7 linked regions of the Homo sapiens genome follow. The protein of the gene in region 1 interacts with the protein of each later gene in a pairwise test. Each region holds a gene or a part of one and is shown in the gene's direction. Other genes may lie near its edges. The genes, in order: SPP1, UBQLN4, SGTA, SGTB, SLC39A6, TMEM168 and FAM20C.

Evidence for each region.
Region 2: the proteins of SPP1 (region 1) and UBQLN4 interact in a two-hybrid assay, tested with the Homo sapiens proteins (2 studies listed by BioGRID and IntAct).
Region 3: the proteins of SPP1 (region 1) and SGTA interact in binary tests that used the Homo sapiens proteins (3 or more experiments, as listed by UniProt).
Region 4: the proteins of SPP1 (region 1) and SGTB interact in binary tests that used the Homo sapiens proteins (3 or more experiments, as listed by UniProt).
Region 5: the proteins of SPP1 (region 1) and SLC39A6 interact in a two-hybrid assay, tested with the Homo sapiens proteins (one study listed by BioGRID).
Region 6: the proteins of SPP1 (region 1) and TMEM168 interact in a two-hybrid assay, tested with the Homo sapiens proteins (one study listed by BioGRID).
Region 7: the proteins of SPP1 (region 1) and FAM20C interact in binary tests that used the Homo sapiens proteins (3 or more experiments, as listed by UniProt).

The regions. Positions count from the first base shown.
Region 1 is NC_000004.12:87,977,941-87,981,312, forward strand, and holds part of SPP1 (osteopontin isoform OPN-a precursor), read left to right. Parts: intron 1-2,105; coding exon 2,106-2,186; intron 2,187-2,452; coding exon 2,453-2,494; intron 2,495-3,372. UniProt on the Homo sapiens protein: Major non-collagenous bone protein that binds tightly to hydroxyapatite. Appears to form an integral part of the mineralized matrix. Probably important to cell-matrix interaction.
Region 2 is NC_000001.11:156,036,799-156,040,298, reverse strand, and holds part of UBQLN4 (ubiquilin-4), read left to right. Parts: intron 1-3,168; coding exon 3,169-3,321; 3' UTR 3,322-3,500. UniProt on the Homo sapiens protein: Regulator of protein degradation that mediates the proteasomal targeting of misfolded, mislocalized or accumulated proteins.
Region 3 is NC_000019.10:2,765,906-2,770,178, reverse strand, and holds part of SGTA (small glutamine-rich tetratricopeptide repeat-containing protein alpha), read left to right. Parts: intron 1-1,087; 5' UTR 1,088-1,110; coding exon 1,111-1,210; intron 1,211-2,492; coding exon 2,493-2,599; intron 2,600-2,958; coding exon 2,959-3,043; intron 3,044-4,273. UniProt on the Homo sapiens protein: Co-chaperone that binds misfolded and hydrophobic patches-containing client proteins in the cytosol. Mediates their targeting to the endoplasmic reticulum but also regulates their sorting to the proteasome when targeting fails.
Region 4 is NC_000005.10:65,680,200-65,684,472, reverse strand, and holds part of SGTB (small glutamine-rich tetratricopeptide repeat-containing protein beta), read left to right. Parts: intron 1-3,678; coding exon 3,679-3,817; intron 3,818-3,916; coding exon 3,917-3,979; intron 3,980-4,273. UniProt on the Homo sapiens protein: Co-chaperone that binds directly to HSC70 and HSP70 and regulates their ATPase activity.
Region 5 is NC_000018.10:36,115,367-36,119,639, reverse strand, and holds part of SLC39A6 (zinc transporter ZIP6 isoform 1 precursor), read left to right. Parts: intron 1-2,860; coding exon 2,861-2,966; intron 2,967-4,273. UniProt on the Homo sapiens protein: Zinc-influx transporter which plays a role in zinc homeostasis and in the induction of epithelial-to-mesenchymal transition (EMT).
Region 6 is NC_000007.14:112,769,362-112,773,634, reverse strand, and holds part of TMEM168 (transmembrane protein 168), read left to right. Parts: intron 1-579; coding exon 580-854; intron 855-4,273. UniProt on the Homo sapiens protein: Plays a key role in maintaining the cardiac electrical stability by modulating cell surface expression of SCN5A. May play a role in the modulation of anxiety behavior by regulating GABAergic neuronal system in the nucleus accumbens.
Region 7 is NC_000007.14:254,730-259,002, forward strand, and holds part of FAM20C (extracellular serine/threonine protein kinase FAM20C precursor), read left to right. Parts: intron 1-1,119; coding exon 1,120-1,300; intron 1,301-1,924; coding exon 1,925-2,034; intron 2,035-2,275; coding exon 2,276-2,357; intron 2,358-3,916; coding exon 3,917-3,976; intron 3,977-4,273. UniProt on the Homo sapiens protein: Golgi serine/threonine protein kinase that phosphorylates secretory pathway proteins within Ser-x-Glu/pSer motifs and plays a key role in biomineralization of bones and teeth.

The DNA.
Region 1 (3,372 bases):
AGAAAAATTAACATCTCCAGAGAAGATAGAGGTCATACTATTTGAGGCAAGAATTAGCGTCTTTTTAATAAACGAAAATATGGCAAAGATGCATTTTAGAAGGCACGTGGAGCTATAACAATTTAAGAAATACGTGAAGAGCTCAAGGCTCAGCCTTCTAGAATCCCAGAAACTTAAAGCTAGTAAAAAATTGGGGAAGTCTCTAAGGATATATGCCTGAAAATACACACTGGTTATCTGTGAGTGTTAGGATTACTGGGTGGTTTTTAGTCTATTCATTTTGCTTACCTTTATTTTCTTCATATTAGTTTTTAAAAATTATAAATGTAACTTATACATCCATTCTCTCTGAGCCTGTATTACATGTGTCATGAGAATAGATAGATAGATATGAAAAAGTGAAGAGAAAAACTCTGAACTCATCTGGTCTCACTGTTTTTCCGCCTTCTTTTTTTTTTTTTTTTTTTTTTTTTGAGACGGAGTCTCGCTCCGTCGCCCAGGCTGGAGTGCAGTGGTGTGATCTCGGCTCACTGCAAGCTCCGCCTCCCAGGTTCACCCCATTCTCCTGAGTAGCTGGGACTACAGGCGCCCGCCACCACGCCCGGATAATTTTTTGTATTTTTAGTAGAGACGGGGTTTCACCGTGTTAGCCAGGATGGTCTCCATCTCCTGACCTCGTGATCCACCCTCCTTGGCCTCCCAAAGTGCTGGGATTACAGGCGTGAGCCACTGCGCCCGGCTGTTTTTTCATCTTCTTAAAGCAAGGAACCCCTTCTTTCAGCAAAACCTTTCGGAGAAGCCCAATACTAAGCTCCTCTGGTTAGAGCCAGCCATGAGAGAAACTCCAAGTACTTCTGACTGGTTCTCTCTCTACTCATCCACCCCTTAGGTGGCTGCAGAAGGAACTCTGTGCAACCCCCAGAGTTCTCATTCTCAGTGACAGGGAAATGTAATGATTGGCCCTGGATGATTCAGCAGATCAGATGATACTTACTCAGAGCAATTTCCACTCCTTTGCAGTAGCATATTATCAGTATTTTCCAGATAAATAACTTGGCTAAAGAAAAATCCATTTCATTTACATCTTTGGCACCTTACAGCAATAGAACTTTTGTGCAATGATTTTAATATTATATTTCTACATTGGCTGATAAGATACATATGGCTATTGAGCACTCAAAATGTGGGCTAGTGCAACTGAGGAACTGAATTTTTATCTTCTTTTTTTTTTTTTTTTTTTTTGAGATGGAGTCTTGCTCTGTCACCCAGGCTGGAGTGCAGTGGCGCAATCTTGGCTCACTGCAAGCTCTGCCTCCTGGGTTCACGCCATTCTCTTGCCTCAGCCTCCCCAGTAGCTGGGGGTACAGGTGCCTGCCACCACGCCCGGCTATTTTTTTTTATTTTTATTTTTTTTAGTAGAAACGGGGTTTCACTGTGTTAGCCAGGATGTTCTCGATCTCCTGACCTCGTGATCCGCCTGCCTCGGCCTCCCAAAGTGCTGGGATTACAGGGGTGAGCCACCGTGCCTAGCCATTTCATTTTAATTAACTTAAATTTAAATAGCTCCATGTGGTTAGAGGATACTGAATTAGCACAGTCTTAGAGAGTTCCTTCTTGTTCCATGGACTGGACACAATGAAGATTAACAGTAATTAAGGTCACTTCTGGTTTAGATGTGCTTTATCTGAGAGGAAAATTCAGCCAGCAAACATACAAAAAGAAAGCACAGTGTGAAGTTCGGTGTTAAGAGCTAGTTTGCCTGCGTTTGAACCCTGCCTGGCTCTGCCATTTCCTACCACTTAACTGCACTGTGGCTGAGTTTTCTGATCTGTAAGGTGGGAATAATAATGATACCTATCTCATAGGGGAATGAAAGGATCAAATGAGTTCATATTTGTAAAGCAATTTGAAAGAGTGCCTAGCCCACAGTAAGTGCTACATAAGAGTTTGTTAAATGAATCTGCAAAAAAAAAAAAATTACAAAAAGGTACCTAAGGGTCCGGGTGACTATATGCTTCCATCAAGACTAGTGAAGAATGGTTGTTTTTTCCATTCATCCCTACATTTCTTTTTTTAATAATGATAAACATGCAACTTTTTTGTAGCTTTACAACAAATACCCAGATGCTGTGGCCACATGGCTAAACCCTGACCCATCTCAGAAGCAGAATCTCCTAGCCCCACAGGTATTTTTAAACTTCTCATAATTAAACTACAGTGATGAAAGATAGCCACACTCAGGCCATTTGGGCTGCTCAGATGAATCCTGCCTGCCTGCTGGCAAACATGTGCTTAGGACATTGACTGATCTGCCATGTTGGCTTCTCTCTGTGTTAAGCCATCCACAGATGAGGCTGAAAAATAAAAACTGCTTTGGATTAAAAAGGTTAACTTTTGAATAAAAAAGCTAGGCATGTGTGATGCGCACTAACACGTGCCATTCCTTCTTCAGAATGCTGTGTCCTCTGAAGAAACCAATGACTTTAAACAAGAGGTAAGTTCTCATTTTCAATCAGAGGCCCATCATGCCTTGAAGAGATGAAAGAAGGCATTGCCTGGATTCTCTTCTGATGAAATTTCATTAGCAAGTTTTCCAGCTAATTGGCAGTCTAAAACTTGCTCATAAATAAAACATGTATTTACTAAATATCAGAAATACTAGGTTTCCTCGGATAAGTTTAGCATTACAGAAGATGTTTATTAATGCCTGTTATTTGAAACATTAATCTGCTTGCAATTTATTTAAGGTATTTTGTAGATATCTAATATCTAATAAGCATCTAATTAATGCATATCAAAGCTAAGATTTTGCCTTTAGGAAAGTTTTCTTTCCTAATAAAATAGTTTATTTGACAACTATTCTTTTTATTAGGATCATTCATATATTTGCTAAGCAAAGAGTAAATTTATTTTCCTTAAGATTCAATTTGAATATACTAAGAATATTAAAGCAAGTTAGATAAATTACCCAATATATTTGTCAATTTGAAATTTGATAGACATTAGTTGTTTAATTCAATGGGCAGTTTTGAGCTGCAGTTTATACACACATGCATAACAGAGTCACCTTTCAATTATCCATGTTAATAGGAAAGTGGTTATAGATTTTAGTACACACATTAAAATATGGATACTCTTCTCTTTTGATAAATCTCATTTCAAATAAAAAAACCAGTCTCATAATTATGTATCTGTATCTATTACATCATTGAATTTAGTAAATAATGTTTAATATGTATAAGGAAAAACAATGTTATTGACATGAAGATTATACTCACATATTTGGCTTGAAAATATCTATAAAAATAATTTCTGTTGCAAAGTAAGAAATGTTCTTCAGAATGTTATTAATCCCTGTGTTAAAAGAGAAAT
Region 2 (3,500 bases), on another chromosome or scaffold:
TCAACCTCCCGAGTAGCTGGGATTACAGGCACGCGCCACCACACCCGGCTAATTTTTTTGTATTGTTAGTAGAGATGGGGTTTCACCATGTTGTCCAGGCTGGTCTCGAACTCCTGACCTTAGGTGATCTGCCTGCCTCGGGCTCCCAAAGTGCTGGGATTATAGGCGTGAGCCACCACACCCGTCCAGAAAGGGCTTTTATACTGCAAGTCAGGGGGCCTTAGTGACTGACTTTCTCTGTGACCCCAGGCAAGTCCTGTCTTTTCTCTGGATCGAACATTGTTCCTTTCAACACCAGGTGGACGGTGCTTGCTGGACTCTTTCTAGCTATAAGAGTCTTTTTTTTTTTTTTTTTTTTTTTTGAGACGGAGTCTCGCTCTGTCGCCCAGGCTGGAGTGCAGTGGCCGGATCTCAGCTCACTGCAAGCTCCGCCTCCTGGGTTTAGGCCATTCTCCTGCCTCAGCCTCCCGAGTAGCTGGGACTAAAGGCGCCCACCACCACGCCCGGCTAATTTTTTGTATTTTTAGTAGAGACGGGGTTTCACCATGTTAGCCAGGATGGTCTCGATCGCCTGACCTCGTGATCCACCTGCCTCGGTCTCCCAAAGTGCTGGGATTACTGGCGTCAGCCACCGCACCCGGCCACTATAAGAGTCTTTTGTTCATAATCAAGGCTTGTGCTTTCCAAATACCCCTTGGGCAAACATTTACAGGAGATAATTAGAGGAATGACAAGAATGAAAAGCCAAGCTAGCCAGGCGGTGGCTCACTTCTGTAATCCCAGCAATTTGGGAGGCCGAGGCAGGCAGATCACCTGAGGTCAGGAGTTCAAGACCAGCCTGACCAACGTGGAGAAACCCCGTCTCTACTAAAAATACAAAATTAGCTGGGTGTCGTGGCGCATGCCTATCATCCCAGCTACTCGAGAGGTTGAGGCAGGAGAGTCACTTGAACCTGGGAGGCAGAGGTTGTAGTGAGCTGAGATCGTGCCATTTTACTCCAGCCTGGGCAACAAGAGTGAAACTCCATCTCAAAAAAAAAAAAAAAAAAAAAAGCCAGGCCAGGAGTGTGGCTCATGCCTGTAATCCCAGTGCTTTGGGAGGCCAAGGCAGGGGACTGCTTGAGGCCAGGAGTTCGAGACCAGCCTGGGCAACGCGGGGAGACCCAGTCTGTAAAAATTTTTTTCTTTTAAAAAAAGTCTTAGTGCAAGCTGGGCATGGTGGCTCATGCCTGTAATCCCAACATTTTGGGAGGCCAAGGCGGGTGTATCACTTGAGGCCAGGAGTTCAAAACCCACCTGGCCAACATGGTGAAACCACGTCTCTACTAAAAATACAAAAATTAGCCGGGCTTGGTGGCATGCACCTGTAATCCCAGCTATTCAGGAGGCTGAGGCAAGAGAATCGCTTCAACCCGGGAGGCAGATCATGCCACTGCATCCAGCCTGGGTGACAGAGCGAGACTCCGTCTCAAAAAAAAAAAAAAAAGAAGAAGACCTAGTGCAGTGGCTCATGCCTGTAATCCCAGCAGTTAGAGAGGCCAAGGCAGGAGGATCACTTGAGACCAGCCTGGGCAACATAGCAAGACCCTTTCTCTGCTAAAAAAATTTTTTTCTTTATTTTTTATTTTATTTTTATTTTTTTGAGATGGAGTCTCACTCTGTCCCCCATGCTGGAGTGTTATGGCACAGTCTCGGCTCACTGCAACCTCCGCCTCCCGGGTTCAAGCGATTCTCCTGCCTCAGCCTCCTGAGTAGCTGAGACTACAGGCTCCTGTCACCATGCCCAACTAAGTTTTGTATCTTTAGTCTCGGGGTATCGCCATGTTGGCCAGTCTGGTCTCGAACTCCTGACCTCAAGTGATCCACCTGCCTCAGCCTCCCAAAGTGCTGGGATTACAGGCATGAGCCACCACGCACTTTTGTTTTTTTAAGATGTACTCTGTCTTCCAGGCTGGAGTGCAGTGGCGCAATTTCAGCTCACTGCACCTCCGCCTCCCGGATTCAAGTGATTCTTCTGCCTCAGCCTCCCAAGTAGTTGGGACTACAGGCATGCGCCACCACACCTGGGTAATTTTTTGTGTTTTTAGTAGACATGGGGTTTCGCCATGTTGGCCAGCCTGGTCTTGAACTCCTGACCTCAGGCAAACTGCCCATCTTGGCCTCCCAAAGTGCTGGGATTATAGGCATGAGCCACTATGCCCAGCCAAAAAAAAATTTTTTTTTAATTGGCTGGGCAAGGTGGTACACACCTGTAGCCCCAGCTACTCAGGAGGCTCAGAGAGAAGGATCACCTGAGCCCAGGAGATAGAGGCTGCAGTGAGCTATGATTCTGCCACTATATTCCAGCCTGGGTGCAAGACCCTGTCTCAAAAAAAAAGGAAATACTTCTCTTTTATAAATAACTGTTGATCAGTGAAACAAAATTAAATAGCTTCTTAACTGGGACCCTTCTCTAGCCTTTCATATGGCTGTACGTGTGATGACTATTAGGAGGGGCCTTGGAGGTCATGCTTAGTATGCATCTTATTTGACCATAGAACATTTGGCTTTTGGAGTGCCTGTTAACATCTCCAGTGTTTATGGAAAGTAATGAGGAATATATGCTGATCTAGGCCTATCAGTTATCTTGAAAATCTAAAAAAGATATCCGCCTGCCATATTATTACACAGTTTTGTTTGTTTGTTTTTTTGTTTTTGTTTTTTGAGACAGAGTCTCGCTCTGTTGCCCAGGCTGGAGTGCAGTGGCGCGATCTCGCCTCACTGCAAGCTCCGCCTCCCGGATTCACGCCATTCTCCTGCCTCAGCCTCCTGAGTAGCTGGGACTACAGGGCGCCCACCACCACACCCAGCGAATTTTTTGTATTTTTAGTAGAGATGGGGTTTCGCCGTGTTAGCCAGGATGGTCTCGATCTTCTGACCTCGTGATCCGCCCGCCTCAGCCTCCTAAAGTGCTGGGATTACAGGCGTGAGCCACCGTACCCGGCCATTACACAGTTATTTAGGACTTGGGACCTAGGCTCCTGGGCCCCCATTTGCAGCTCATCTTCCCTGCCCTCCTGATTGACTCTGAGGATATTAGAGAAGACCTGCTGGTCTTAGAAACCCTTAATTCAAATAGGGCCCCCAAGATTGGTCCTGTGCCCACTTCACAAGGCCTGTCCCCTCCAGGTGCAGACGCCAGAAGTGAGATTTCAGCAGCAGCTGGAGCAGCTCAACTCCATGGGCTTCATCAATCGTGAGGCTAACCTGCAGGCCCTGATTGCCACAGGAGGGGACATCAACGCAGCTATCGAGAGACTGCTGGGCTCCCAGCTCTCCTAATCCCTCGGCCCATGCCTCCTGCCTCTCCCCTCCCTCGATGTCAGCATTCGGTTCTTCTGTCAATCCTTACCCTCTGCAGCTTGTCCTCCCTTCCGTCTTCTCCCTCATCCTTTCCAAACAGCAGGGTGACTTTAGAGGCATGGGCTCCAACCCCTTAGCTCTGTCTGAGAATTATGGTT
Region 3 (4,273 bases), on another chromosome or scaffold:
ACAAGACAGGGTATCCGAGGGGGGACCAGGCGGATGTCCGAGGGGGAACCAGGAGGGTTTCTGAGAGGGAACCAGGAGGGTGTCCGAGGGGGCATCCAGGAGGGTATCCGGGGGGGAACCAGGCGGGTGTCCGAGGGGGGCACAGGCGGGTGTCCGAGGGGGGCACAGGCGGGTGTCCGAGGGGGGAACCAGGCGGGTGTCCGAGGGGGGAACTAGGCGGGTGTCCGAGGGGGGAACCAGGCGGGTGTCCGGTGGGGGAACCAGGCTGGTGTCCGCTGGGGGAACCAGGAGGGTGTCCGGTGGGGGAACCAGGCTGGTGTCCGCTGGGGGAACCAGGAGGGTGTCCGCTGGGGGAACCAGGAGGGTGTCAGGTGGGGGAACCAGGCGGGTGTCCGAGGGGGGCACAGGAGGGTGTCCGAGGGGGAACTAGAGGGGGGTCTGAGGTGGAATGAGGTAGGTAGGCCTCCCAGGGGGAACAAGACGGGTCCCCAAGAAGTCCCTGGGGGGAGTCCTCTGCAAGTCCTGTGAAACAGTGATACCAGGGCAGGCACACCTGGCCCCGTTGGGTACCTAAGAAATGCTTGCTGACATGCCACAAAAGAGGTAAATTGAGGAAAGGGGCAGTGGCTCTGGCTGAGGACAAGGTCTCTCCCTCTCAGCACTGTGGACATTGGGGCTGGATCGTTCTCTGGAGTGGAGCTGTCCTGGGCACTGCAGGGTGCTGGGCAGCATCCCTGGCCCCCACCCACCTCATGCCAGAAGCAGGGGCGGAGGGGACCTCCGTGGCGCCTCAGTACCACCCTGGGAGTGCTCAGGAGGCCCTGGGAGCACGCGGGTTCTCTAGGGCAGGCCCTGCTTGCCTGCTGGCCTCACACTTTCTGGCTGTGTGCATAGCCGGATTGGTGAGCTCTGGGCCTCAGGTCATCATCTGTGAAATGGGCGTATTAAGGCCTTTCTACCTGGGCTGTCCTGGAGCTGAGATCAGCCAGCACCCTTAAAGTGAGGCCCAGCTAGTTAGGGGCAGGCCTGGGGTGCCTGGAGTGGGGAGTGTGAGGGGGCCTGATGGGGGTTTTTCCTGCACCCCCAGGTATCACCTCTTCTGGGCTCAAGATGGACAACAAGAAGCGCCTGGCCTACGCCATCATCCAGTTCCTGCATGACCAGCTCCGGCACGGGGGCCTCTCGTCCGATGCTCAGGAGAGCTTGGAAGGTAGGTGGGTGCCTGCCACTTCCCCCTCTCCCCGGGCAGCGGCCAGCACAGTCGCCTCGTGTAGACACCTGGTGTGTAGATGCCTGGTCCCCCGCCTGGCTTTTTGGGGGTGGAAGCTAAGCCCAGAGAGGGCAGGGGTCTGCCCAGGGCCACACAGCCCCCGGCCGTGGGAGCCAGGGCCGAGCTGAGCCCTCCCGCCTGCCACTGCGTGGCGCCACCACTGCTTGATGCCTTCAGGCTGAGCTGCCTTCCAGTGGCTTTTTTCCATCTCCCCATCTTCCACCAAGGTGTGTTCTGGAATGTTCTCACCACCCAGTGTGTGTGTGTCACCATCGGTCACGGGGAAAAAGCTCTCCTAGTGCTGGCCCCGCCCCAGAGTCCCAGACTCGTTGGCATCCTGCATGGCCTGTCCGCTCCCCAGGTGCCTTGGTCTCCTGGCTGGTCTTGCTTGCGCTTCTGCGACACCTGGATCCGGGGCTCGGAGGGAAAGGAGGGCTCGGGGAGGCACCCTCGTGTGGCTGCAGGTTCTGCTCTAGGTCCTCCTTCCCCACCTATGCCTCGCTCACCTGTGTCCTGGGCCTGCCAGGCCTCTGTAGCATGGACACCCAGTGACAGCTGTAGGGATGTGCCCGGGGTCCTTGACACAGTGCTGGGCAGGAAGTGGCTGACCCCCACTTCTGACCTGGGTTAGGACCCTGGGTCCACACGAGGAGGCGGCCAGGGCTAGTGTTGTCTGGCTCGGTGGGAGGGCCCCCTGGGTGCTGAGTCTGTCAGGTGGGCCAGCAGAGAGAGGGGCCCTGTGGCTGTTTCTTGTCCTGCTCTCAATGGTCCTGCCCTGGTACAGACCCAGTCATACAGGCCTTCTACTGGGGGCTGGCTTCAAGCTCCTTACTCAGGCCAGGCGCCCTTGGAGGTGCAACAGCATCCGGGGCACCTCACCCCTGACGTGGCCCTCCAGGTGGGGCCAAGCCCCCACCACGCCGCAGCCGGGCAGCCCCAGCATTGGGACCCCACAGAGGCCTGAGGTCACCACCTGGGCTCCACTCTGCCCACGGCCTCTGCTGCTCTCAGGGGCACGGGGCGTCTCTGTCTGGCTTTTCTTTTCGGGAAGGAAGAGGGTCCACTGTCCCAGCCCAGAGCACAGGCGGCGGCCCCTGCGTTCTGGGGTCCTTGGGAATGAACACACCTGGGGAAGCATGAGCACCAACCCCGCCCTCTAGACCCAAAAACGTAACCTCGGGGCTGCGTGCAATGAATGGGACCGCCTCTGTCCCCGCTTCAGTCGCCATCCAGTGCCTGGAGACTGCGTTTGGGGTGACGGTAGAAGACAGTGACCTTGCGCTCCCTCAGACTCTGCCGGAGATATTTGAAGCGGCTGCCACGGGCAAGGTGAGCCTCGATGCTTCCCCAGCCACTGCCCCCAAAATAAGAACAGCAACAGCAGGCAGCCCTGGGGACCCCAGGAGCCCCGCTCTCATCGTCCCCCAGCACTCTGCCTGCATCCTCTCCTGGGCTGGGGACGTGGCTGCAGGAGCACTTGGCCCTCCTCCCCCTATCGGCGGGTCCTGAGACACATAGCGCTGTGGTCACTCGCCCAGGGCCACATGATGGGGGGCCAGGAGTCCCCTGCAGAGCCCCCGGGTCCTTCGGAACTTGGTGGCCCTCTCTGGCGTCCCGAGGGAAGCTAAGGCCGGAGGGTGCCAGGTTGGGAGGAGAGGACAGCGGGCCGCCTTTGCCTCCGGGTCCAGGAGATGCCGCAGGACCTGAGGAGCCCCGCGCGAACCCCGCCTTCCGAGGAGGACTCAGCAGAGGCAGAGCGCCTCAAAACCGAAGGTAAGGGAGGACCTCCATCCCCACAGACACCTCGCCCTACCTGGACTCCGGGGCTGTGGGACCCTCGCAGAGGCCAGCTGGTCCCTGGGGCCCAGGGAGCTGAGGGAATTGCCCTGATGACCAGCACGCTGGCTTGTGGGGACGGGGACGGAAGGGGGACTGGCGAGGGGACTGGCGAGGTGCAGAGAAACTTGACCTTCAGGCACAGCACGGCTGGTGGGGTTGTCGGGAGCGGCCCCTGTGGAAGACTGGCTGGTGGCCCCCAAAAGTTGCACAGCTTCCATGAGACCCGCCGGTTCCACCCTGATACTAGATATGTGCCCAAGAGAGACACATGTCCACCAAAACCCAGACACATGTTCACAGCAGCTGTATTCACAAGAGTCAAAAAGCAAGAAGAGGCCGGGCGCGGTGGCTCACACCTGCAGTCCCAGCTCTTTGGGAGGCCGAGGCGGGCAGATTGCCTGAGGTCAGGAGTTCAAGCCTAGCCTGGGCCAACATGGTGAAACCCCGTCTCTACTAAAAATGCAAAAAAATTAGCCAGGTGCAGTGGTGGGCACCTGTAATCCCAACTACTCAGGAGGCTGAGGCAGGAGAGTTGCTTGAACCTGGGAGGCGGAGGTTGCAGTGAGTCCAGATCGCGCCACTGCACTCCAGCCTGGGCGATAAGAGTGAAACTCCGTCTCAAAAAAAAATAAAAAATAAAAAATAAAACAATAAAAAGAAGCAAAAACAGCTTAAATGCCTGTCCACGCTAAATGGTCAGCACAGCATGGCCCATCTACACGGTGGAATGTGGATGGGTGAGGCTCTGACCCAGGCCCCAGCGCAGATGCACCGTGAAGACATCACACTCAGGGAGAGAGGCCAGACACAAAAGGACGCACAGCATGTGATCCCATTTCTTTTTTTTCTTTTTTGAGATGGAGTCTCGCTCTGTCGCCCAGGCTGGAGTGCAGTGGCGTGATCTCGGCTCACTGCAACCTCTGACTCCCTGGTTCAAGCAATTCTCCTGCCTCAGCCTTCTGAGTAGCTGGGACTACAGAAGCCTACCACCACGCCCGGCTAATTTTTGTATTTCTAGTAGAGACAGGTTTCACTGTGTTGGCCAGGATGGTCTTGGTCTCCTGATCTTGCGATCCGCCTGCGTCGGCCTCCCAAAGTGCTGGGATTATAAGCATGAGCCACCGCGCCCGGGCTTATATTTTTAAAGCGTAAGCTTTGTGGCAT
Region 4 (4,273 bases), on another chromosome or scaffold:
TCCCCTTCATTTTCTACAACATTAGATCTTCCATCTCTAATAGATGATAATGGTTGGCATGTGATCAGGTCATAAAAAGTCATTCACTGAGCCAGGTGCAGTGGCTAACACCTGTAATCCCAGCATTTTGGGAGGCCAAGGTGGGAGAAATGCTTGAGCCCAGGAGTTCAAGACCAGCCTGGGCAACATAGCAAGACCCCATCTCTATAAAAATACAAAAATTATCCAGGAGTGGTGGGGTACACCTGTAGTCCCAGCTACTTGGGAGGCTGAGGTGAGAAGATTGCTTGAGTCTGGGAAGTCGAGGCTGTGGTGAGCCGTGATCGTGTCACTGCACTCCAGCCTGAGTGACAGAGTGAGACCCTGTCTCAAAAAAAAGAAAAAAAATCATTAGTTGGACCCATCCCTTTACCCAGCGTTCCCCTCTAGCCACCATCCCACTTCTCAGTTCCTCGTTCTCTGCCCCTGATGGTTATCTGTACTTGCTGTTTCATCTTTGTCATCTCTTTTTTTCTTTTTTTTTTTTTGAGACAGAGTCTCGCTCTGTCACCCAGGCTGCAGTGCAGTGGCGCGATCTCAGCTTACTGCAAGCTTTGCCTCCTGGGTTCACGCCATTCTCCTGTCTCAGCCTCCCGAGTAGCTGGGACTACAGGCACCCGCCACCATGCCCAGCTAATTTTTTGTATTTTTAGTAGAGACGGGGTTTCACTGCGTTAGCCAGGATGGTCTCGATCTCCTGACCTCACGATCCACCCACCTCGGCCTCCCAAAGTGCTGGGATTACAGGCCACTATTAACTTATTGTCAAAATACATCACTCTCTAGGATCCTGACACTACACTTGCCCTGTTTCCCCTTCCACTTTACTGGATGCTCTTTTCCAGTCTCCCTTGCTTGTTCTTCCTCTCTACCATCTCTAAACAATGCTGTATTTTAGGGTTGCATCCTCTGCTGCTGCTGTTTCTTTGTCTTCTCTCTGCTCAGTTTATCCTGCTCCATGCTTTTAAAATTCATCTACAGTTGATACTCATTATTTGCAGATTCTGTATTTATGAATTTGCCTACTTGCTAAATTAATTTGTAATCCCCAAATCAATATTTACACTGCTTCTGTGGTCATTCATGTACATGCACAATTAGTGAAAATGTGTCTTCTGATGCTCTCGATCTCAACTGAGGGTGAATAAGGTGATGCTCTATCTTTTTGTTTCAGCTCTCATGCTGAAACAGTCTATTTAGTGCTACATTTTTTTTTGTATTTTTGTGCCTTTTATTTGTGATTTTGCTGTTTACAGTGGCCCCCAACTATAGGCTGAAGTGTTATCTAGTATTCCTAAGTGCAAGAGGACTGTAATGTGCCTTATGGAGAAAATATATTTATGAGACAAGCTTCATTCAGGCATGAGTTAGTGCCGTTGGCTATGAGTTCAATGCTAATGAATAAAATATATATATTAAATAAAGTTTCTTTAATCAGAAACACACATAAAAACAAGATTATATATTGATCAGTTGATGAAAATATGACTATTTACAACAGTTGCAGGAACCTAACTCTGTATTTTCCCTAGGAACAATTGTTCAGTATTTGCTAATTCATTGTTCATGGTGACTTTATAGAACAGGACTACTGTGAATAAGAATCAACTATATATATTATCGGATCTAATTTATATGTTTGAACTCCGTACTCATATATTCTACTACTCTTCAACTCTATGTTTGGATGTTTAATAGGTATTTAAACTTAACATGTCCCAGACAGAACTCATGTTCCCTTCCAAAATCTTTCCAATCTCAATACATTGTACAATTAGTTATCTATCCCATGCACAGGTCAGAAGCCTAAGAGTCATCCTTCATTGTTATTACGCCTGACATAAGTACTGATACTCTGTCATCAAGTCCTGTCAATTCTAGTTTCTGTATATATCTTGAATCCAAGTGTTGATCGCTATCTTACATATAGCCCCAGTCCAAACTACATCTCTTACCTAAGCTACTGCAATAGCTTCCTAACCGATCTCCCTGCCTCCATTCTACCCTTCTGCCCATGTAGATCCTCTACGTAGAAGCCAGAGTGAGCTTTCAAAAGCACAAATTGTATCATGTGACTCCATTGCAACCAGAATAAAGTTCAAACTCCAAGCAATGGTCCTCTATCATCTGGCACCCAACTGTTCTCTGACATCATCTCTCCATGCTTTGTTTTCTGTGTTCCCTCCTCATCAGCCCTTGTCCTGTTCCTTAAGAATACCAAGCTTGCATCTTTCTTGGGACCTTTCTGTTTACTGCTATTTCCACTACAATGCTCCTCCCTCATTTTCATGACTGCTTTCTTTACATCACTCAGATCTTTCCAATGTGGCTACTTTTTGAGCAGCTCTCCTATTCATTCCTTTAATATTGCCCTTTTTATTTGCATGCTTGTTGCCTGTCTTCCCCAGGTAGAATGAAATTTTCTTAAAGACAGAAAACTTTATCTTTTTTTTTTTTTGAGATGGAATTTCGCTCTTGTTTTCCAGGCTGGAGTGCAATGGCACAATCTCGGCCCACTGCAACCTCCGCCTCCTGGATTCAAGCAATTCTCATGCCTCAGCCTTCCTAGTAGCTGGGATTACAGGCGTCTGCCACCATGCTTGGCTAATTTTTGTATTTTTAGTAGAGACAGGGCTTCACCATGTTGGCCAGACTGGTCTCAGACTCCTGACCTCAAGTGATCCACCCACCCTGGCCTCCCAAAGTGCTGCTGGGATTAGAGACGTGGGCCACTGCGCCCAGCCAGGATCCTCAGTATCTTTAGATATTATTTTAATAATATTCTTATACATCATAGAGTTTCAGTAAATAGTTACTGACTTGACTCTTGATTAACTGGGGACTCTGATAAAGTATCATACATGGTTGACTGGTAGAAAATGAATTAGGTTCCGATAAAGAGAAAAAGAGAAAAGAAAACAGTAATTTGTTTAAAACAAACCTAAAACAAACAGAAACCCCTAATACTATGTCACCATATATACAGTTATTGTTTAGTTCTATAATAATTTTTCAATAAGTAAATTATAACTAGGTAAATATGAACATTAAAATTTAATACCTCTTTGACTTGTGCCTGGTATAATTTGTTATTTGAATTGTAAAGGATGCTAATTTTATCTACCTCTTTTGATCAGGAATAGTTATCTAATAACTACAGCCTGTTTTCTTAATGGAAAATTGATATTAATTGTTCCTCTGTTAGGAAGAAGAAAGCATGTAGGCCATTTTGAAGCACAAATACAGTTTAGAGTCCTTAAAAATGGTGTTAGCATCATGGATTTATGTGACCACATGATTGTCAACTCACATCTTTTGGAACTTAGTCTAGGCATTTATAAAGCAAATTATTTTACATATTAAGCTTAAAAATGGTAGAGTAAGTAAGATAATCTCTAAGCATTAAATTCATGATCTATAGGACAACCAGGTTATCAGCAAGCAGAATGGAGTGAGTTCAGATATATAGAATCTTAAGTTGGAGGGAATTTTGCTCCCGTGAGCCATAGTACAGTGAATAAATTAAGTGTAATCTGGATTAGAACTGAATACCAAGACAGACAGACGTTTGACGATGTTTGTGATGTCCTGATGTTCTTTAATCATATATCTGATATTCTTATATTCTATTCCCTTCAGGCTGGCCCTCACTGCCTTGAATAAATTTGAAGAAGCAGTTACAAGTTATCAAAAGGCATTAGATCTTGACCCTGAAAATGATTCCTATAAGTCAAATCTGAAAATAGCAGAACAGAAGTTAAGAGAGGTATCCAGTCCTGTAAGTTGTTAATGCCAAATGAGTGAAGTATTTTCTGTCATTCACAATTTATTGTAATTGTAGATACTGGACTGATTCTCAGATATAATTGTTTTACAGACAGGAACTGGACTGAGCTTTGACATGGCTAGCTTGATAAATAATCCAGCCTTCATTAGTATGGTGAGTATACTTTCTTTTCTGCCTCTACTGGCTATGTTTTCCATAGACTATGTAGCTATGCAATTTTTTTTAGAAACAAGTGAGTTTTTGTGGTGGTGGTTGTAGTGGAGTATTGATATAAGGCTATAGCAGGGTTCTGTTTTTTTATTTCCAACTTTTATTTCAAGTGCAGGGGTAAATGTGCAGGATGTGCAGGTTTGTTACATAGGTAAAACGTCTGCCATGGTAGTTTGCTGCACAGATCCTCCCATTACCCAGGTATTAAGCCCAGCATCTATTAGCTGTTCTTCGTGA
Region 5 (4,273 bases), on another chromosome or scaffold:
ACTCTAGGTTATAACTCTAGATTGTTAGTGAGTTGTAAAATCAATCTGTATGTCATAACCAATATTTTTAAATGCAACAATAATATTATATATTACTATTTTACATTACATATATTAATGTGGGTCATAGTCAGAGTAGTTTGATGCACTCTGCTTTAAAATAGTATCTACTAGAATGTAAGCTCTTAAAAGCCAGGATCTCTCTGTCTTGTTTACAGCTCTGTCTCCAATGTGTAGAATAGTGTCTGGTACATAATCGATGGTAGTAAATATTGAATGTTTAAGGAGCATGAAACAGCAAATAAGCATAATTTCTAGATGAAGACTTCCCATAGGAGTTTTGCAAATGTTACATGTTCTCTTCCCTTTTTGGAATATGCTGAGTTTATCTTTTGTTAAAGGCATCCAGATATTAAAGTTACTTACTTAATAATTTTTAATCTAATTCTCTCAAAAAGAAAACTACTACTCATTATATTGTGAGTATGGGGAGTTCTTCAAGCTCGTAACAGGGCATTTTACTTAGGATTTTTCTTAAGAGATCCATCCTGCATCCCTGGGAGATTCTGTATATCATATTTTTAGGTTATAGGCCTTCTGCTGCTTAAGGTTCACCTTCTGCTAGTGAAGGTTATTGTTCATGCCGAAAACTAGAGAATCATCTCTGATATCCCCCTCATCCCCACATCCAACCAAGTTTTAATAAATATGTCCATGGTCTCTCCATTCCTCTCCATCTTTCTTGCTGTCATTCTAGTCCAGGCCATGGTTACTTCCCACCTGAGTGACAGTTACTGCCTCCTAATAGGAGCCTGTCCACGTTATTTTGTTTTCCTCCTTTTCCCAATCTAGATTTCACAGAGCGGGCAGTGATTTGTTTAAATGAAAATATGATGAGGTTGCACACCACTACTTAAAATCCTTCCTCCAGTGGCTCCATTAGTTTTTGGACAAAGCCCACTATTCTCAACAGAGTTCTATTGTCTGATCTCCTTTAGTTGCCTCAGCCTCATCTCTGGCCACCCTCTCTGACCTAGTAGGCCCCGGCCACCTTGTACTTCTTTGAGTTCCAGAACAGTGCTGGCCCCTTCCTGGTGCTACTCCCTGCCTGGAATGCTGCCTCCCCAACCTTCCCCACCAAATTCCTACCTATCTTTAGGTCTTGGTATAAGTTATATTTTTTCAGTGGCCATCTGGAAATTATTGAGGTCATGTTATTATACATTCTTAATAGCACTCTGTTCTTTTCTATTGTAAAATGTGTCAAAAATTATAGTCAAAGAAGTATATAATCATTACCTGTGTAAAACCCTCTCCCTGTGGATAGTAAGCTCCATGAGAACAGAGACTGTGGGGCTTATTTTATGTTCTGCTCCCAGCATTTAGCATAGGGAACACTGTGGGCCCTTAATACTTATGGAATGAAAGAATTGGTTAAACTACTTTCTAGAACAATTGCCCAATGAGAAATAAAGCACCAGCATAAATGATTTAAGATACCCTGAGTTCATTTATTTTTACAAATATTTAAGTACTTTCTCTGATTGAGGCATTATATTCAGGATAAGTGTAAAGATTTGTGTGTGTGTTTGCCTTTTTTTTTTTTTTTGAGATGGAGTCTCACTCTGTCGCCCCGGCTGGAGTGCAGTGGCGCGATCTCTGCTCACTGCAAGCTCCGCCTCCCAGATTCACGCCATTCTCCTGCCTCAGCCTCCTGGGTAGCTGGGACTACAGGCACCCGCCAACACGCCCGGCTAATTTTTTGTATTTTTAGTAGAGACGGGGTTTCACCATGTTAGCCAGGATGGTCTCGATCTCCTGACCTTGTGATCCGCCCACCTCGGCCTCCCAAAGTGCTGGGATTACAGGCGTTCGCCACCATGCCCGGCCGTGTTTGCCTTTAAAAGCTCTTAAAATCTAAGAATGTATAGACACTTGATATGGTATTAGAGCTTGAATGAAATCTTAGGTATGGTGGTGATCATCATATTCAAAGGTACTGCAAATAAGAAATCTGTTATTTATGTGATAACTTTTATTTTAAATGTTCTGTATAAGTAGATGATACACAGACACCATTGTTCAAACAGTGACCTTTACACAACATAAAGGCTGCTTGGACTTAGGGACAATATCTCTGGTATGGTATTTGGGATGGTTAAAAAGCCCAGTGATGAATTCAGGGTTAATAGAGGCTTGTTTTAAAAGAGAAATCATGTTAATGGTGTTTTATTAAAGAAAAGTGTTTTAATAACTAAAAAACTATAGTTTTAGGTTATAAAAAGTATGGGAAGTTTGGGGTTTCAGTGTGCAGAAGAGGCATGGAAGAAGCCAGGCAGGTGGTTACCAGATCACTAGATGCCTGAAGGAAATGCCCCTAGCTGGATTTTTTTGTTGTTTTTTGAGACAGTGTCTCCCTTTGTCACCCAGGCTGGAGTGCAGTGGCACGATCTTGGCTCACTGCAACCTCCACCTCCCGAGTTCAAGCAATTCTTGTGCCTCAGCTTCCCAAGTAGCTGGGAATACAGGCGCATGCCACCACACCCGGCTAATTTTTGTATTTTTAGTAGAGATGGAGTTTCACCGTATTGGCCAGGCTGGTCTCGAACTCCTGACCTCATGATCTGCCTGCCTTGGCCTCCCAAAGTGCTGCGATTACAGGCGTGAGCCGCCGCGCCTGGCCGGGAGTATGCATTTCTGACAAGTTCCCAGGAGATAGTGTGCTGCTAGTGTGGGAACATACTTAAGAGTAGATGACTGTGGGGGCATTCTGTGTGTTTTGCTTACCTGGTTATTGATTGAAAGCTGTACATATAAACAAATTACTGTTTTAAAGTATTGTTTTCCCTCACTATTTTAGAATCAGAAGAAACCTGAAAATGATGATGATGTGGAGATTAAGAAGCAGTTGTCCAAGTATGAATCTCAACTTTCAACAAATGAGGAGAAAGTAGATACAGATGATCGTAAGTTCTTATGCATAAATTTTAGGGCTGGAGGGAGTTCATTGCTGTATGATTTGCAGGCAACTTGACTATCTGGAAGAAATGGGACCATGTCCCTTGGTTTTGGTTTTTGCAGTATCTCATACTTTGTAAAATATTGCCAGTGAGTACATTGTTTTTGTATATTTACATTTATTTTTTCTGTAACTTTTTATTTTGAAGTAAATTCATATTCATAGAAAAGTTTAAGAATCGTACAAAGAATTCCTGTATCCCATTCACTCATATTCCCCAGTTATTTTACCACACTGTCTTTCTCTAGCTCTGTCTACACACACACCTTTTTCTTTAATTTTTTAGTGACTAAAGGGCCAGCTACACACACTTTTTTTCTAAACCATTTGAGAGTAAGTTATAGACATGATGTTTCTTTACTCCTAAATACTTATGTTTCCTAGGAAAATGGACATTCTCTCATATAACCAGAGTTTAATTATTAAATCAGGAAATTTATACTGATACAGTGCCATTCTCTGTAGACGTTATTCTTCCAAATGCCTTAATAGTGCTTTTTATGCCAACACTCCCCCAACCCCCACCAAAATATTGTTCCAGAGTACAATTCAGGATCAAATATTGCATTTAGTTGCCTCTACTTTTGGGTTTGTTTAGTATTTTTGCATGATTAGGTTGATCAGTTTTGGCAGGAATACCGCAAAATGGTACTTGTCCTTTTCTGTCACATGGTGTGCCACCTGATATGATTCTTTGTCACTTATTGGTGGTGGTAATTTTGATCACTTGCCTAAGGTTGTATCTACCATGTTTCTCCTGTTTTTCCTGAAACTTGGCTGTTTGCTTGGCATATCTTGTCGGACAGACTGAGTTAAGATTCATGTTTTCAACCCAGCTCCTTGCCATGATCTTCAAGGTCCCGCTGAGCCCACCACTCTCCCGCATTGTTCACTGTGCTCCAGCCCCACTGGCCCTCTTTTCACGCTGGGAGCACATAAGGCTTGTCTCCGGGCCATGCACTCACTATTCCTTGTACTTGGAATACCGTTCTCTGAGACCATTACATGCATTCCTCCTCTTGTTGTGCAGGTCTCAAATCAGGTATCTCCTTTAGAGGCCTTCCCTCAGCACCCAACGACAGCAGGCATGAGCCACTGTGCCTAGACCACACTGTTTTGATATATGGTTGTTGTTGTTGTTGTTGTTGTTGTTGTTGTTTTAATTTTTTTTTTTTTTTTGAGACGGAGTCTCACTCTGTCACCCAGGCTGGAGTGCAGTGGTGCGATCCCAGCTCACTGCAAGCTCCGCCTCCC
Region 6 (4,273 bases), on another chromosome or scaffold:
TTCAACTAGTGTCCAGTGGTATAAAGCAATGGACCTAAATTTTAATAACTTTTTAAATGCCTATTAATAGATAATTTCTTCTATTATTTATGTACCTTAAGTTAATAAAATTTGAACACAATTTTATTGACTATTTTTCAATACAGAAGTAAATATATAATTAAAATATTGCTTTTTTATTTTGTGTTATAATATTTTTAAAGAAGTTTTTTTAATAGTCCCCACCCAGATGTTCTTGAAACAGTGTAATCCTGCTTTTAAAAAACCTTGTCCAATATTTGTCATGTAAGAAAATACGAATAAGGAACAAAGAGTAATACTATCTACATTTGGAGACATTATCCCAGCTTTTAATTTGATTATTGTTTTAATGATAGTAAATATAATATTTAGAAACCAGGTTTTGATTTTCTAAGCTTAATTCTCAGTACTATAGGAATTTTAGAAAGGGTGATTTTTTACAAAAATCCTGCCACTTAGCAGCAACTATATTATAACTGATTCTTAGATAATCAGTTACAAATGACAGATGAGAATGTGATATAGAATGAGTACTTCTTGTTTTTTCTCCTACTTCAGTCCTGATGGTCAGCCAACACTGCTTCCCCCAGAACATGTACAGGAGTTAAATTTGAGGTCTACTGGCATGCTCAATGCTATCCAAAGATTTTTTGCATATCATATGATTGAGACCTATGGATGTGACTATTCCACAAGTGGACTGTCATTTGATACTCTGCATTCCAAACTAAAAGCTTTCCTCGAACTTCGGACAGTGGATGGACCCAGACATGATACGTATATTTTGTATTACAGTGGGCACACCCATGGTACAGGAGAGTGGGCTCTAGCAGGTAAACTCACCTTTGGCAGTTTCACTATTGTAAAGATACACATGTATATGTAGAAATCTGTACTTCACACACAGTCGTTAAATTTCCAGGATTCTTAGTTTACTGAACTATGCATATGACTCTAATTTGTTTTTCTTTGCTCTAGCATACCTGTTTAGCCTAATTTAATCTCTAATGATAAGATTGGGAATTACGTCTTATAGTGATTAGAAGGAAAAAAATGCTTTGAGACTTACAGTTTCCCTTAAAATATTTTCAGAATTGCTAAACATATTTTTCAGAAGCTGATAAACTCCTTTGACTAGTATCTTTAAGTTTTTAAATGTTATGGATGCAGATTTCAGTAGTCCTTCACATCTGTAGTTTTATTTATGTTATAAAGCTCACCAAAATTTTAAACAGCAGATCATGTAGTATGGTGGGAGTAGCACTTAGGTCAGGAGACCTTGGTTCTGGTCCTAATTTGCCACAGCTGTGTTATTTTAGGCAAGTTAGTTAACTTCTGTTGGCTTCAATTTTCTCATCTGTAAAATAAGGGGGTAATTGTAAATGACCATTGAGTTTTATTCTAAGGTACAAAATTCTGTAGGGATTTTTTTGCATTTGAAAAAACATAAAATAACTTTGGTTTGCATGCATTATGGGAAATAGAAAACTTCTTAGTTATTGCCAAGAGAGAAATGAGATCTCTTTATATCATATATAAATTTGTCAGTCTTTCCAACTATTAATAGAGAGAAAGTCAAGGGCTTTGTTTTATCAACTGTTACTTGTTTAGGACCTATAACAGAGCCCAATACATAGTAGAGGATCCTTAAGTAGCTGATAGATAGATGAAATCATTGAATAAATCATTAAAAAAGGTAATTTTCTTATTTTAGATTAGAAATAGTTATTTTAGATTTAATTACATGATTTTTTTTTCCATAAAAGTGTAGATGTTTTAAACCAAGAATATATAAATAATAAAATAGTCATAAATAAAGTGGAAACATTCAGGATAAAGAAAAAGATAAATAGAAGTAGTATGGAAGGACAGAGGCAGAGTTGCCAATATAAGAACTCCAGAAAGAGACAAACAAAAAGGTTAAGGTAGAGATGATTTTAAACTAGCATGATCTCATTGATTTCATGCCAGATTTGTAACTGAGGTTTTTATCATAAGGAGAAATATTTTTTTGAAATTTTTCTTTTTTGCAAATAAATATTGAATAACTCAGTGGCCTTCTAGTAGAAAGACAAGCTAATATTTATTGGGTACATTTTAAGCATCAGCTTACTGTACTTAGTACCTTACACACATTGTTAATCTTTATGTGAAATCCTTTGAGATAGATACCATCACTTCTGTTATCTTCATTTTTCAAACGATGAAATGGAAATTGAAAGTTGTTATGTAACTTATCTGTGGTCATACCACTATGTGATAGAACCATGATTTAAGACCAGATCTGCCTGATTCCTAAAGTGTATTTTTCCCCCCACTCTACCATGTTGCCTCCAAGGGTGAAAGCCATGATGATAAAGGAATGGCATGTTCTGGTTAAGTGGATATTTTTGTTAACATGGGTCACCCATTTCAAAACATTAGAATGTACAAGACTAAAAGATGCACTGAACATTAAAACTAATTGAATATAGTTTATAAAATCATTTACTTGACCTATAACTTTTTAATTACAACGTAGAAAGCATCTTTTTAACCTTTATGGCTACTTCAGTTTCAGGTAAAGTATAACGTTCTGTGTATTCCAACTCAGAGCACAAGAGAAAGCTTTTAGTCAATTAAAATAGCCTTTACAGAAATAGAATTTTAGATCTAAAAGCAGAGATTGCTGAAACTTACTATAATCCTTATGATAATAAACTCTACCCAGATCAAATGGAAAAAACAGGGCTAATTTTTGGTGGCCATGCATATATCCCTAGTTATTTTAAAGTGTTAGAGTAATTTTAGAAGTAAGCTTTTTATGTGTGTTTATATGAAGGATTTATTACTTAATAGAAACACTTTTCAAAAAGTTTGCATTTTTCTTAAGTAATTTAAAATTCATTAAGTATTTCTTAAAGATAGCTATGGAAATCAATTCTAGATGTTCATTTACTAATACTTATATCAGCTTTTTATTTTTCTAAGAAAAGTAAAAACACTAAGATAAACACACACACACATATATATATCTCTCGCAGTTTTTCTAAATTTTCATTCACTGTTAGGAATAATTTTTGAAGACTTTAAGAACACTAAAATAGAGTTGTATTTTAGGTAAATGTTTAGCAGTTACATTCTAGAATGATGTCTTTATAATTTTTTTGAAGTATGCTACCAGTAAATTGACCGTTACAGAATTCCTCTGTTAGCTAAGATTTGTTCTTGTGTAACTTTGAGGCTTATTATAAGAAGTTTAAAAAAAAGAGAGAGAAAGCATACTGATCTCCCTTCCCTGAGAAAGGTAGATTTTATCTTATAATTCAGCAACTGCATACTGTCATGCATGGCCTGAGGCATCTCGCATACTTGTGGGTAGTCAGGTTGAACCAGGCCCAGAAAAGCCCGCTTTTCAGTTAGTTCATGCCCTGGCCTGCTTTAGACGTAGTCCTCAAGGGCTGATTCTGCCTCACAAATAGTATTGAATATCTCTGCTCTGAGGAAAATACTTTCATCTATTCCAAATTAAGTGACAAAGAGCTTTAAGCTCTGCTAATTTATTAATAGTTGGGGATTTTTTGTTTTGTTTTTTGTTGTTTTTTCAGCAAACTTTGAAATAGGAAACATCACAACTGGATTTTACTTGGGTTAGCAAGTTGATAGCAGGCCCAGTATTAATATCGCTGTGGGAAAGAGAATCTATATTTGCCCTTTATCCCATACCTTCACTCACAGTAGTTAGAATATGTAGTCTTCTTATATTTATGGAGTTTCATGATATGGAACCTAATATTTTTGCCTCTGCTTGAGGATAGAAAACAATTATGGTAATTACAGGAGAGACAGAAATAAATGGAAAAAATGTAGATAATTTATAAAGCAGTTTATTACAAATAAAACCTTTAAAAAGCAGTCTCAATTACTTAAAATGCATCAGATGGATATTAGCTTAGATAAATGTAAGTACTTTGAATCTGGGCCAAAAGCCAAATGTAGCATAGAACCTATTCATAGGAGAAAGCAGAGCAAAACAAGAGAAATTGTTTAGAAAGCTTTAATGCTGCTTTAGGTCTCGTTGATATCTAAAGAGCATTTATATAAGAGAATTAGGGTAGAATATGCTCAAGAATGTTTATTGAAATAGTTGTGGATGGCATGTTGGGCAATGATGTTTTGTGGCAGATGGAATTTACATAATAGTTCTTGTAATCTGTGTCATCTTCTGATCTCTAGAGAAATTTAATAGAGCTGACAATAATGGAGAGTTAAC
Region 7 (4,273 bases), on another chromosome or scaffold:
GCCCCGTACCATGAGCAGGCGGTCACCGTTCCTCACCCCGCAGCCCTCGACGAGCAGCGTCCCACCCCCAGTCTATCTGGATTTGCCTGTTCTGGGCGTTTCATATTAAGAGGGTCATACGACGTGTGGCCTCCTCTGTCTGGCCTCCTTCGCGGAGCACAGGGTTCTCGGGTTCAGTGAGGGCTTCATTCCTCTTCTTGTTTCATTTCGTTTCGTGTCATCGCACGGATGGACCATGTTCACCTGGCGTGTCCACTCCTCTCTTGATGGACATTTGGGTGGATTCTCTCTTTTTCGGCTGTGGTGAGCGGTGCTGCTGTGAGCATTCGTGTCTGAGTTTTTGTATAGAAATGTTTTCTCTTCTCTTAGGGGTTTACATGGGAGGGGAGTTCCTGGGTCACGTGGAAACACTGTGTTTAATCAGTTGGGGGCTGCAGACCGTTTCCGCCGTGGCTGTGCCGTGTGCACCCCCCGCCAGCAGCGCACAGAGGTGGCGGTTCCCCCGTCCCAGCCGGCAGCTGCTCTTTTGATGGAAGCCATCCCAGCAGACAGGAGATGGTGCCTCACCGTGGCTTTGATTTGCATCTCCCCGGTGACTCACGATGGCGCCCGTCTCTTCTCATGCTTGTCGGCCATCAGGGTCGTCTTTGGAGAATCAGCTGTTCAAGCCCTCTGCCCATTTATTAGTTTTTTTTGTCTTTTTGTGATTGAGTGATGAGAGTTCTTCATACACTCTAAATGCTAGATCCTCAGATGTGCGGTTTGCAAACGTTTTCTACCATTCTGTGGATTGTATCTTCACTTTCTTGACAATATGAATGCATTTTTTAAAAGACTAAATGTTGGCCCTAGGGTTTCCATAGACCAGCCCCTGATTTTCGAGGGTTCAGGCCGGGCTCTGCCTCTGGGGAGCTGTGTGGCCTCGGGACGTCAGCTCTGTGGGTTCATTTTTCTGTACCGTGGGGTGGAGGTGTTTGCTGGGATTGATGGGGAACTGTGGGTGAGTCCTGCCCATGAGAAGCACCAGGCAGAGCCCGGCCCGGCCTTGGGGGCCGTGAGACCACAGGTGAGGACGCAGCCCTGTGCGGCCCTGGTAACCCGCAGCCTGTCCCTCCCCAGCCAACAACATCTGCTTCTACGGCGAGTGTTCCTACTACTGCTCCACGGAGCACGCCCTGTGCGGGAAGCCAGACCAGATCGAGGGCTCGCTGGCGGCCTTCCTGCCCGACCTGTCCCTGGCCAAGAGGAAGACCTGGCGGAACCCTTGGCGGCGTTCCTACCACAAGCGCAAGAAGGCCGAGTGAGTGCGGGGCCGGGGGGCTGGCGTCCGGCCACCCTACGGCAGAGGGAGCTGGGCCTGGGCGGGCATGGGAGGGTCGGCGCCCACGGGGGTGGCAGAGATGGGTGCAGAGCCTGCTGTGCGATGCTGGCCTGTGTGAGATGACCGCTTCCTGATGAGACGGTGGCAGAGGGCGTCCTTACTCCAGTATTTCCATGTGCTTCCCTGACCCGGGCCGGCCTGCCCACCAGGTCCCTCGAATCGGGGCCTCTCAGCGTTTGAGCTCTGCTCTCGCCCCGTCCCTCTCCTCACTCCTGCGGGAGAAACGGCCCCTGTTCTTTCCGCCCCACGTTGTCCTCGTGAGTGTGTAGTCCAGGTCCTGTTTCCCCACAGAGACTCTGCAAAAAACACGGGGCCCAGAGGTGAAGGCAGCTCCAGGTGGGGTCACCCCGAGGCAGGGCAGAGCGGCTCCGTCCCCTCCCACACCCGTGCTCCCGCTAATGCAGCCTCAGCGCCGCAGCCCGGGCGGGTCCATCTGCAGACGCCAAGGTCCCTGCCGCAGTGTTTCTCTTCTGCTCCTCATGGCACGCGCCGGGCTCCCCAGAATCTGGCCTGGGCCCCCCGTCTCACGCTGGCTCCCCGCAGGTGGGAGGTGGACCCTGACTACTGCGAGGAGGTGAAGCAGACACCGCCCTACGACAGCAGCCACCGCATCCTGGACGTCATGGACATGACGATCTTCGACTTCCTCATGGGTACGTCCCGCAGGGGCACGGGGTCCCCGTGTCACTCGCCTTGCGTGGAGCGGATGCACGCAGGGCTCTGCAGGGCACACTCCGTGGCACGGCCCGGCTGCGGTCCTGTGGCCTGTGAAGGGGCCAGATTGCTTAGAGGTCACGCTGGCAGGAGGAGACGCCGCTCTGCAGAGCACAGAGGCCTCTGAGCTACGTGGCCCGGCTCCCCACGAGCTGTGACACTTTCTGCCTCTCTCCGCAGGAAACATGGACCGTCACCACTACGAGACTTTTGAGAAGTTTGGGAATGAAACGTTCATCATCCACTTAGACAATGGAAGAGGGTGAGCCTGTCCTCGCCCCTGCACACCCAGGGAAGGGCCGGCCACCTCCCAGCTACCTGCAGCCCACCTGAGACCCTGGGGACGGGGGGAGCAGACCCTCCAGTGGAGGGATGGGAATGTCGCAAAGGCCCATCTCAGAGCCAGATGCAGAGGGCGGCCCCAGGCCCCAACCAGGAGGGAGGGCCGCCCCGGGAGTGGGACCTCCGAGGCACAGGAATGCTGCAGACCAAGTCCCGGCAGAGCTGGTGTTACCTGGGAAACGGAGGCCAGGAGAGGCTGCTGGTAGGAAGAGCAGGACCGTGCAGAATAGATGGGCCTCTGCCTGCACGCGGTACCTGGAGCCAGCCAGCGGGGGATAGGCGGCCTCTGCGGCCGCTGCTGGCCTGCCACGGGGGGTCTTGGGCGGCGCTGTGAGACCCTGGTTACCAGGGAGGGTGACCCCTAATAAGCAAAGCATGGAGGCGAGTAACTCGGGCAGGAGGACGTCCATTCCCAGGCTCGGAGGCCTCAGAGAGATGGACTTTGGGCACTTCAATAGCTAAACTGTGGGCTGACGCTCCCTGGAGCCATCTCAACTCGGCTGCCCAGGACCCTTCCCCAGGCCAGAGGCCAGGACCCCACATACAGGGCTGGGGACAGGCGGGGTGGACCCACTGCCTGGGGTGCTGGAGATGGGCAGGGTGGACCCACTGCCCGGGGTGCTGGAGATGGGCTGGGTGGACCCACTGCCCGGGGTGCTGGAGATGGGCAGGGTGGACCCACTGCCTGGGGTGCTGGAGATGGGGCTGGGTGGACCCACTGCCCAGGATGCTGGAGATGGGCTGGGTGGACACACTGCCTGGGGTGCTGGAGATGCCCGGGGTGGACCCACTGCCTGAGGTGCTGGAGATAGGCAGTGTGGACCCACTGCCTGGGGTGCTGGAGATGGGGCTGGGTGGACCCACTGCCCGGGTGCTGGAGATAGGCAGTGTGGACCCACTGCCTGGGGTGCTGGAGATGGGGCTGGGTGGACCCACTGCCCGGGGTGTTGGAGATAGGCGGGGTGGACCCACTGACTGGGGTGCTGGAGATAGGCAGGGTGGACCCACTGCCTGAGGTGCTGGAGATAGGCAGGGTGGACCCACTGACTGGGGTGCTGGAGATGGGTGGGGTGGACCCACTGCCTGAGGTGCTGGAGATAGGCAGGGTGGACCCACTGCCTGGGGTGCTGGAGATGGGTGGGATGGACCCACTGCCCGGGGTGCTGGAGATGGGCAGGGTGGACCCACTGCCTGAGGTGCTGGAGATGGGCAGGGTGGACCCACTGCCCGGGATGCTGGAGATGGGTGGGGTGGACCCACTGCCTGGGGTGCTGGAGATGGGTGGGATGGACCCACTGCCTGGGGTGCTGGAGATGGGTGGGATGGACCCACTGCCCGGGGTGCTGGAGATGGGCTGGGTGGACCCACTGCCTGGGGTGTCGGGTACAGGCAGGTGGACCCATGGCCCAGCTCCCAGCCCAGCAGCCTGTTAGGAACCTTGTACAGGGGCCCTTGACAATTCTGCTTTTCTTCTGGAAGGTTTGGGAAGTATTCGCACGACGAGCTCTCCATCCTGGTGCCGCTACAGCAGTGCTGCAGGTACAGCCCCTGCCGGAGCCGGCTCCAGCTCCACCCTCCTCCCTACTGCGCAGGAGACAGAGGAGGCCACAGCCTTCCCCACCCCACCCCGGCCATCACATGGGAGAGAAAAGGCCCCGAATTCAACCACAGCCCTGAATTCAACCCACACCCTCACTCGGCGGCCTGGAGGCGCAGACCTCACCCGCCCACCACCCCAGGCCCATCCAGCTCGAGCCCCCTCGGGCCTCCACTCTGTGTCCGTCCTGCCACCCCAGTTACAGAGAGAGCTCGAGGCCAGGGCAGACGCCAGCTGAG